Regions from separate parts of the Homo sapiens genome. Here region 2 is linked to region 1. The links come from fine-mapping of genetic effects on gene expression. A gene starts in region 1. The other region holds a variant in brackets. All regions are shown on one strand. Distances are from middle to middle.

Evidence for each region.
Region 2: its variant is fine-mapped to the expression of CRY1 in blood mononuclear cells (TOPMed, PIP 0.98).

The regions. Positions count from the first base shown.
Region 1 is chr12:107,091,489-107,096,875 of GRCh38, forward strand. CRY1 (cryptochrome circadian regulator 1) reads right to left here and starts at 2,061. Exons shown (of 13, transcript NM_004075.5): 1 at 1,316-2,061. The coding sequence starts at 1,473. RefSeq lists silencers at 1,893-2,122, 2,453-2,532 and an enhancer at 2,203-2,352.
Region 2 is chr12:107,052,264-107,057,650 of GRCh38, forward strand. All of the region lies in intron 1 of CRY1 (cryptochrome circadian regulator 1), which reads right to left. Among named protein-coding and RNA genes, the nearest start is that of CRY1, 39 kb to the right of the region's middle. The variant C/T (reference allele first, on the strand shown) is at 2,292.

The DNA of each region.
Region 1 (5,387 bases):
CTTCTTAATTGGACTTCCTGCTTCTTGTCCACCTCCACTCCCCAATTCAGAACCACAAGCAGAAAAATTCTTTTCCAAACTTATGTCAGATCACATTACTTCTCTGCTCATAATCCTGCAGTTATTCCCATTTCACTAAGTAAAAACCCAAATCTTGAAAACTGCTTATAAGGCTCTCTTCAATCTGGCCCTAAGTCAACTCTGACCTCATCGTCTACTATTTTTCCCTCACTTATTCTGCTCCAGACATACTGGATTCTTCTGCTGTTCCTTCCAAAGGTCAAGCATATTTCTGCCTTTTCCCTTACTCTTCCCTTTGCCTGGAATGGTCTTCCCTTAGATATCTGCATCCCACCACCTCCTTCAGGTCTGCTCAAGTGTCACCTTCTCTGTGACTTTTCCCCCGATCATACTTAAAATTGCAACCCCATCCCTACCCTTGTATTCTTTATCCCTTTACTCTGCTCTATTTTTTTCCACAATACTTATCACCACCTAAAATACTACATATTTTACTTTCTGCTTGAAGACATGACTTTCTGTCTTTCACTCACTGCTATATCCCTAGCATTTAAATCAGTGCCTGGCACATGCTAAGTGATCAAGAGTCTATCTGTTGAGCTATGCTTTTATTTCCACCAGGGGGCCTAACAATCATGTAGCCTGGTGTTTCAGGAAAAGATCATAAAGCATCTCTAAGATTTCTTTCAGTGCTCTGATCCCTAGAAGGACTACAACTTGCCTAGAAAGAAAAACTGTGCTTTGTCTCGGCAACCACAAGGAGGAGTTGAGAAAAAGAACCGAGCAGAGAAACCAGATAATGCTGTTTCCCTTGCTTTTCCCACAGTAACCTCAAGGTGGAAGAACACTGGATCTGGAGCCTGCTGTACTGAATGAATGATTTTTCTCCATACTATGAGTTACCTAGACACAAACGTAAACAGGAAACATCACAATCCTTCCGAATGCCACAAAAAGGCCAAGGGAATCCATATACAATGGCCACTAAGGACAGGAAAGGTGTTTCTTTAACTCCAGCACTAAGAATTCTCCACAAATTCAGGGGAGGAGCTCCAGTTAGCACAGAAAGACACATAACTCACTGATGAAGACCGAGTGTTTCAGGTCGTCAGTACTCTTTGGCCAGAGAAGTATTAAGTCAATTCTATTTAATACTTAGGGCACCTAAAATTCGTAAGCGGTATAAGCAAGACAGTCCCACGTCTAAATTCACAGATTTGGCGGATCGCATGGAATTCATTAACATCAGACTCATTAAACACCCAAATCCATTTCCCACGGGCTTGTGACTCACCGCCACCTGTTGATGCCCACATTGGAGGAGCCGGCGAACCAGGGGTCCAGGATGTAGACGCAGCGGATGGTGTCGGCGCCCTGAATGCACTCCTTCAGGGCGGGGTTGTCGTGGAGCCGGAGCCCCTTTCGGAACCAGTGCACGGCGTTCACCCCCATGCCGGGGGGCGCGGCGGGTCCTCCACGGAGAAATTCAAGGAAGGAGGCTCCGGCTCATAGCCGACACCTTCGCTTCCAAGAGAATTGCCTCACCCGGGGCGTGAGGAAAGGGCGGCAGAGGGGGAACAGGAAAAAATGACTCCGAGGAGGGGACCGGAGAAGGCGGGGGCGCCGGAGGCGCAGTGGAAAGATGAATGGAGGTTGCCTAGTCGGCGGAGTCCGGGTGTGACGCCCTTTAGGAGCCCGCGCCCGCCGCAACCGCCTGGAGGCGACGCATAACTTCGAGGGCCTCGGACCTCCGGAGCCTGAGCAAGTTCCAGGAGCTCGAGCCGCCACGACGGCCCGAGCCGGCACGGACGGCCCCAGGAGATTCGTCACGGAAACCTCGCCCCACCAAGGCGGCCCCTAAAGACAAAACGGCCCGCCCGAGGTGAGTCACCGAGGAGAACCGGAGGGGAATGAGCCCCTGTCGGCGACGCTGTCTCTCGGCCCGGGAGAAAGGACCGGGAACGGAGGCTAGAGGCGGTGGTCGAGGCCGCTGGACGGTTGCCGGCCGGTGACCGGTCCCGAGGCTGCCCGGGTGACTCTGCCGCCGCCGCCGCGTCAGCGGCCTCGGCCCCGCCCCCGGCTCCTCATTGGAGGGCGCGCTCCCCTCGTGACCACCGGCACCTCACGTTTCTGAAGTGTGTTTACTACACTGGCTCGGAGGGGTAATCTGCTCGCGCTTCGGTCGCTTTTGGAGGAGCGGCAGCCGCTTGATCCCAAACTTGTTGACCCTCGTCCACACGCTGAACTCACTGCCTCTGCCCCTTTCCTGTGCCGACTGGTGGCCGTCCCTTGGAAGCAAATCGCGTTGACCACAGGCCCCTTGTGAGGGAAGGCTTAGCCCCGCCCCCAAGGGCCATGAGCGGCCACCATTGGCCGAGGCTCGCTGAGACCCGGATGAGCACGGGGATGCGGGGAGCTTGCGGGCGCGCGCGCTGCTCCGTTAGGCGCGCGTGCGCTCTCGCTGCGTTCCAGAGGGTAAGGGGGCGGGGCCGGCGGGCAGGAGCGCGCTCGGCGATTCCTCCCGTGGGATTTGGGGAGGGCCTGGAAATTGTCCGGTTTCCTTCAGGAGCCAGTGGTGGAGTCGGGCGGAGAGTGAGGGGAGGATGGAGTGGAAGGAGGAGAGTGGGAGGCTCCACGTACATTTCAAGTCCAAACCATGTGCTTCAATCCTGCTTTGGCCAGAGAACCCTACTTTGGAGATTGTGGAGCTGTGCCCCTCCACTCTCCTGGCCCTTGGGTGCCTCCTCCCCCTTGTACATACTCTGGGGAAAAGGGTAATTGGCAGGACGGATGCCAGGCATTCCTGGACTTCCTGGAATTTTTTTAATACTAGCGATATATATCATCAACCTTTCACCCCTCGTCTCTTACATTTAATGTAGTTTACCGGTCTCTTTGAAACTGGACGTTTGTCTACTTTTCCAGCGACAGTGAACTGCAGGCCATGGCATCCCTTAGATATATGATGCCCTTAAATTCATTCAATGATTACTTTTTGAATGAACTAGGCACTGTTCAAAGCACTAGAGATACAGGAGATACTTAATAAAACAGACTAAAACCCCACCCCTCCTGGGGTTTACAATTTGTCTCTTAACCTTTGCTGTTTTTTCCTCTATAAAATACTCTTCTTTGGAATCCAGTACTCAATATTACCACCTTTGAGCTACCTAGGATATTTCTACGCATCCCTTTAGACTCAGATGAAATAATAACTAATTTCTGAAAGTATTCCTGATCCCTAGGGCAAATTTAGGACCTCCCTGGGTTCTCCAAGTATGTTTCTGTTACATCACTTTTCACACTACCGTGAAAATTAGTTGAAAAGTGCCCATTCCTAGCAATACCAACTCAGTAATAGTACTTATTATCATAATAATGTGCCTCTGATTCCCTCTGAAGTGTGATTTCTCAAGGACTGGGTCTGTATTCAGTTTTCTTTTGTTTTTATTTTTTGCATCAACACCAGAACAGAGCCTGACATAGGCAAATGCTTATTTAATGAATGAATGAGTGAGTGAGTGAGTGCTGTTGGCCACCAGTGTGTTTGGCAAAGTTAAAAGAAAGAAGGAGATGGCAATTCTTATTGGTTGAATTGTGTGTCCCCAAAATCATATAACTCTCAATGACTATAAATGTGGCCTTATTTGGAAATAAGGTCTTTGTACATGCTCAAGTTAAGATGAGGTCATTAGGGTGCACCCTAATCCAGTGTGATTGGTGGCCTCATATAGTGGAGAAATTTAGACACAGAAATACATATACATACAGGGAAAATACCATGTAAAGATTGGAACTGTGCTGCCACAAGCCAAGGAACTACTGGAAGCTAGGAGAAAGACCTGGAACAGATCCTTTCTTAGCACCTTCACAGGACTGTCGCACTGCTGACACCTTGATTTTGAACTTCTGGCCTCTAGAACTGCGAGACAGTTAGTTCCTATTGTTCTAAGCCTCCCAATTTGTGGTGCTTTTTTACAGCAGCCCTAGCAAACTAGTGCAGCAATAAAGTAAATTCAATACTCTAGAGAGCCAATCTGTCTGAATAGTCTTCCCTACTTCTGCTTCTGTTGCCACAAGAAGTATATATCAGCCTTTCTTTGGTTCTGTAAGAATACTTTTAAAATTATATATATGAATGATATGGTTTGGCTGTGTCCCCACACAAATCTCATCTTCAATTGTAGTTCCCATAATCCACACGTGTTGTAGGAGGGACCCGGTAGGAGGTAATTTAATCATGGGGGCAGTTACCTTCATGCTGTTCTCATGATAGTGAGTGAGTTCTCACAAGATCTGATGGTTTTATAGGGGGCTTTTCCCCCTTTTGCTTAGCACTTCTCCTTCCTGCCTCTATGTGAAGAAGGTTGTGTTGGCTTCCCCTTCTAGCATGATGATCAGTTTTCTGAGGCCTCCCCAGCCATGCTGAACAGTGAGTCAATTAAACTTCTTTCCTTTATAAATTACCCAGTCTTGAGTGTGTCTTTATTAGCAGCATGAGAACAGACTAATATAGTAAATTGCTACTGGGAGGTGCTGCTATAAGGATACCCAAAAATATGGAAGCACCTTTGGAACTGGGTAACAGGCAGAGGTTGGAATGGTTTGGAGGGCTCATAGGAAGACAGGAAAATGTGGGGAAGTTTGGAACTTCCTGGAGACTTGTTGAATGGCTTTGACTAAATTACTGATAGGGATATGGACAATGAAGTCCAGGCTGAGGTGGTCCCAGATGGAGATGATCTTTTTGGGAACTAGAATAAAGGTGACTTTTGCTATGTTTTAGCAAAGAGATCTGTGAAACTTTGAACTTGAGAGAGATGATTTAGGGTATCTGGCAGAAGAAATTTCAAAGCAGCAAAGCATTCAAGAGGTGTCTTGGGTGCTGTTAAAAGTATTCAGTTTTATATATTCACAAATAATATGGCTTGGAATTGGAACTTATGTTTAAAAGGGAAGCAGAGCATAAAAGTTTGGAAAATTTGCAGCCTGACAATGTGATAAGAAAGAAAAACCTATTTTCTGAGGAGAAATTCAGACCAGCTGCAGAAATTTGCCTAAGTAATTTGGAGCCAAATGTTATTCTCCAAGACAATGGGGAAAACGTCTCCAGGGCATGTCAGAGGTCTTCACAGCAGCCCCTCCCATCACAGACCCAGAGGCCTAGGAGGAAAAAATGGTTCTGTGGGCCAGGCCCAGGGCCTTGCTGCTTTGTGCAGCCTTGGGACTTGGCGCCCTGTGTTCCAGCTGTGGTTAAAGGGGGCCAACGTACAGCTCAGGCCATGGCTTGAGGGTGCAAGCTCCAAGCCTTGGCATCTTCCACATGGTGTTCAGCCTTGACAGAAGTCAAGAATTCAAGTTTGGGA
Region 2 (5,387 bases), 39 kb before region 1:
TAAAAAATCTAACGTAATTAGATTTGAGACTCTCCTAAAATGACAGTACCTCTTTACCACAAGGGCAGTCCCTTGAATAACACTTTATAATCATTTATTTATTCAACAAATATTTATTGAGAACTTATGTACTAAAGACTGTACTAGATATTAGAAACACACCTGTGGTTTTTTAAAGTCAAACTTCCTACAATTTGAAGCTAATATTCTAGAAGGAGAGGGAGTAAAGACAGAATAATACAAAAACAGTAAAGCAAACTGTTCAAATGGTAATAACTGAATAACATAAAGTTAAAGGGGAAACTGGGACTTCAGGGAATAAAGGAATGGAGACTGGTATTTTATATGAAACAAGTCAAGAAAATACTCACTGATAATAGAACATCTGTGCAGAAACCTGAAGGAAAGTTGGAGAGCAAGCAGTGCTGGTAAGGAAACATTTTGTGCAGAGGGAACAGCAGATGTACAACACAGGTGAAGAACATGCATGGCACTTTAAAAAGAATACTCAAAAAACCAGTATGGCCACAGCACAGAGAGTGAAAGAGTGGCAAGAGATTATTAGGTTAGAAAGTTATCAAGTTCCAGTTCACATGACATCTTGTAGACTATGGTAAGGGCTCTGCCTTTTACTCTGAGATATAAGCCACTAGAGATTGATCCTACTTGTGATTATGAAGGATCACAATGAGCTGAAGAGGAAGAAGGAGAGAACCAGAGAATCTGAAGGGAAATTATTCGGTAGTTAATGTGGAAGCATGAGATGGTCCGAACTTGGATACATTTTGAAGGCAGAGCCCATATAATTTAATCAACATGTTTAAAGTAAAAAAAGCAAGGAATAAGAAATGGCAGATTTGAAAAAGAACCAAAGAAAATCTCCATATATGAAAAATATAATAATTGAAATCCAAACTTAACAGATACAGTTAAAAATAACATTTATAGAATAGCTGATAAAAAGACATTTTTAAAAATGAAGTACAGAGAACCAAAGAGATGGAAAATATGAAGAAAATAAAAGAGTGCAGTAAAAATGTCTAACACACGTACAAATGTATTTTTTTTTTGAGACGGAGTTTCACTCTTGCTGCCCAGGCTGGAGTGCAATGGCGCAATCTCAGCTCACCATAACCTCTGCCTCCCGGGTTCAAGCAATTCTCCTGCCTCAGCCTCCTGAGTAGCTGGGATTACAGGCATGTGCCACCACACCCGACAAATTTTTTGTATTTTTAGTAGAGAGGGGGTTTCTCCATGTTGGTCAGGCTGATCTCGAACTTCCAACCTCAGGTGATTTGCCTGCCTCGGCCTCCCAAAGTGCTGGGATTACAGGCATAAGCCACGGTGGCCGGCTACAAATGTATTTCCAAAAAGAGAAAATAAAGCAAGGCAAAGCAAGATCTGAAAAAGTAACAGCTGAAAAACTTTCAAAGCTGATGAAAGATAGCAACAGACAGGTTTCAAGGAGCACTGTAAATCCAAGAGAAGTAAATACAAAGAAACTCAGACGGAGATTCATCATCGAAAAACTTCAGAACATGTCAGAGAAAGAGAATATTTAAAATTAGACAAAAAGAAACAAGATATTACCCCCAAAAAAAGTATGAGTGGGAGTGGCAGCTGACTATAACTACATCCCCAACAGGCTCAGAGAAAATCACTGTCAACCTAGAATTCTATATCCAGTGTAAACAAGGCCAGTATCTTCAAACAAACCTAAGAGAGTTTACCATCACCAGTCTTTTTCTATAGAGAATTCTAAAAGATACATCTGAGATAAAAGAAAAATGTTCCCCAATGGAAGAGCTGAGATGCTAGGAAGAATAAAGAACATTGTAAATAGTAGATATGTGGGTAAATGAATACTGGCCTTATAAAACAAGAATAATATATTTTGGTTTTTAAAAACAAAAACAGAGAAATGACCAGAATTAGAATATATAAATCAGAAGAAAGGTAATTAGAGTTTGCGTTTCAAGGGCCTTGAATTATCTAATAAATAGACAAAATTATTGATTAACTTTAGACATTAACCAATGTGCTTCTGGTAATTTCTAGAGTAAACACTAAAAGAATAGCTAAAATAATGTGTAATTATTTTATTAATTAATAAATTTATTAAGTCTGATAAATTAATAAATCTAGTTATTAGAAAGAAATTAATGAAATTTAAAACAACAGAATTTAAAAGAATATTAAAAAATAGAACAGGAAGGACAAAAAGAAAACACAAAATAATATGACAATAAATCCAAATACTTTGGTAATTATAACAAATGTAAACAGACTAA[C/T]GAAAGGCTTCAATTAATTAAAAACTATCAGACTAAATAAACAAAAGTTAATATATGCTATTTACAAGAGACATCTAAAAGACTCCAGAAAGTTTGAAAAAAAAAAAAAGGGATACAAAAAAGTTGACTATAAACATACCAAAGAAAGCTGCCATAGCTATATTAATTATAAACATAATGAACTGTAAAGAAATATACTATAAAGTCACGTTCATAATGACTTTAACCAGGTTAATAATCATCTAAATATATACATATTTTACACATTTCTCCACACCTCGTAATGATAAGAACAAAAGCCTTCACTTCACCAGGAGAACATATATTTAATTTTAGCATTTCAAATTGTATAAAGTAAAAATGACAGAGCTTCAAATAAAGACAGATCTATGATTAAACTGTGGGGATTTTAACATTCTTCTGATAATAATTGAGATAAGCAGACCAAAAATGAGTACAGAAGATTTGGACAACTTATTAACAACCTTGACCTAATGGAAAAACAAAGAATATCCCGTCTAATAACAATGAAGACAGCAGTATACACATGGAACATTTTTAAAAATTCAGCATATATTGGACCATTTAAAAAAAAGTCTATATAAATTTCAAAGAACTGAAATTATTTACAGCATAGTCTCTGACCTTGACGTATTTATGCTAAAAATTAATACTGAAAAGACAATTAGAAAACTTTGCATGTTTGGAATATAATAAATATTATAAGTAACAAAGGATATAATTCTAAATAATTCACAGACCAAAGAAAAAAATCATAACAAAATTTAGAAAATATTTTGAACTGAATAATGAAAATACCACATTAAAGAGAATGTGGAATAAAACTACAGTAGCAATTAGAGGGATATTTACACACCTAAATAATTGTATCAGATAAAAAGGAAAGGCTAAAAATAGCCTAAGAATTCAGCCTATTAAATTGAATAGGCTAAATAGGGTATTCAATAGGCTAACTCCATTTCAATAAGTTAGCGTAAAAAAAAGCAGAACAAAGAAATAAAATTAACACATTCTGAAATAAAAAACAAACCTACCATAGTGAAGGCAAATAAAGTTGGTTGTCTGAAAAGACAATAAAACTAACCAACCTCTGATGAAATGTATCAGGACAAAAGGTAGGAGACACAAATAAGCAATATCAAAAATGAAAAGGTTTGGGTGTAATTGCTCACACCTGTAATCCCAGCACTTTGGGAGACTGAGGCAGGAGAATGGCTTGAGTGTAGGAGACAGAGCAAGACCCTGTCTCAAAAAAAAAAAGAATGAAAGAAAAGGGCAAAATAACCATAGATACTACATATATTTATATCAAACAAGAATAAAGCTAAATGGGTTTCAATTTCAAGTAACAGCTTAGGTTATTTAGATCAATCTAATTGGTCTAAACAAACAAAAATACTGGTTAAGATATATAAAATATCTCCCTAAAGAGTTGGCAAGACAATAAGGAATTCCCAAACCAAAAGCTAAGTCGAACATATAATTAGTTTTTGCCCTAAGAACATTTGCTAATAATCCCAGAGAACCTTAATAGTGGTTTTGACAGCCTCACGGTACAAGGACAGAAATTAAAGCCTAGAACCAGCTCAAGACAGAGAGTCTAAGATACTCCAAAACATTAAGCCAAGATGCCAAAAGGCTAGACATCGTTAGGGAAGACGTGAACCAGAAACAAAATCCTCCTCCACACCTTTTGTGAGGTTGCCTTGGCACTCAGCAGAAAAAGATGGAAAATATAAATAAAAAGTAAAGAATTTATAGGCTGTAAGCACTGGCCAGCCCTTAGGTGGATTTTCATCAGAGGGGCACAAGAAATCTCAAACAATAAATTTAAAGTGCCCTGCAGTGGTAATGACTCTAATGCCATTAAGAAGTAAGTTCAAATTCTAGAGCAAGCTTGCCCAACCTGTGGCCTGCGGGCTGCATGTGGCCCAGGTCAGCTTTGAATGTGGCCCAACACAATTTTGTAAACTTTCTCAAAACATTATGAGATTTAAGCACAGACTTTTTTTTTTTTAAGCTCATCAGCTATCATTAATGTTAGTATATTTTATGTGTAGCCTATGACAATTCTTCCAATGTGGCCCAGGGAAGCCAAAAGATTGTTCTAGAGGAAGACAACCTTATAAAAGGCCTCAGGAAGTTCCCACAAATAATCTTTCAAAAAATGAGAAAAATCTTCAAAGCAGCTAGAGGATAGGAGTAGATGACAAATTACATTCAAAGGAGAAACAGTTTCCAACAGCAATAAAGGTAACCAGAAGACAACAGAATATTTTCAATAAACTGGTAACAAACCCAGAAACCTAAAATTCTATATTCATGAAGATATCTTTCAAGAATTAAGACAAACATATAGACATTTTGATAAAAGATAAAAGAGTTTGTCTCCAAAAGATGTCACTAAAAAAAATTCTAAATGATATATTTTAGGCAGAAGTAAAGTGATTACAGATGATTGTCTAGTATGTAAGAAATATGTAAAGCTATCATGTAACAATAAAAAAAAGAAAAAATTAAGAGAAAATGAAGTCACTGCATTAGATGCCTCCTAAGTACTTACAATACAGAAGAGCAAATAGTTACATAAGCACCATAATATACTGCAGTAAGTATTGTACAATACTTAGTCATACTTTTGTTAACAAGATTGAAAAATCTACACTGACTAAACAATGAAAATGGTATAAAGAAAGCCCAATAAATGCCAAGTAGAAAGATTTATGGAGTGCCTGTCACTTAATAGGCATAAATAATAATCAGCAAATAATGGGTTGGCAAATCAGGAGGCAATATGGCACAGGAATTTAAAAAGAAAGCCCTGCCTACCCACTCGTGAATGAGTAAAACGAGCGGAATCTAACATCAGGAGTGAGGGAATAGAAGAATGCCTCTTTCTTTCTCTCCAAAGTTTTCTCACAAACCCACATTTCAAAGATGAGAGGACTGGCATATAATTGAGTAAAACTGCAAAAACAAACAAAAGCCTTTAAGAAAAGTTTCAGCTTAGCTGGGCGTGGTGGTATGTGCCTGTACTCCTAGCTACTTGGGAGGCTGAGGTGGGAGGATCACCTG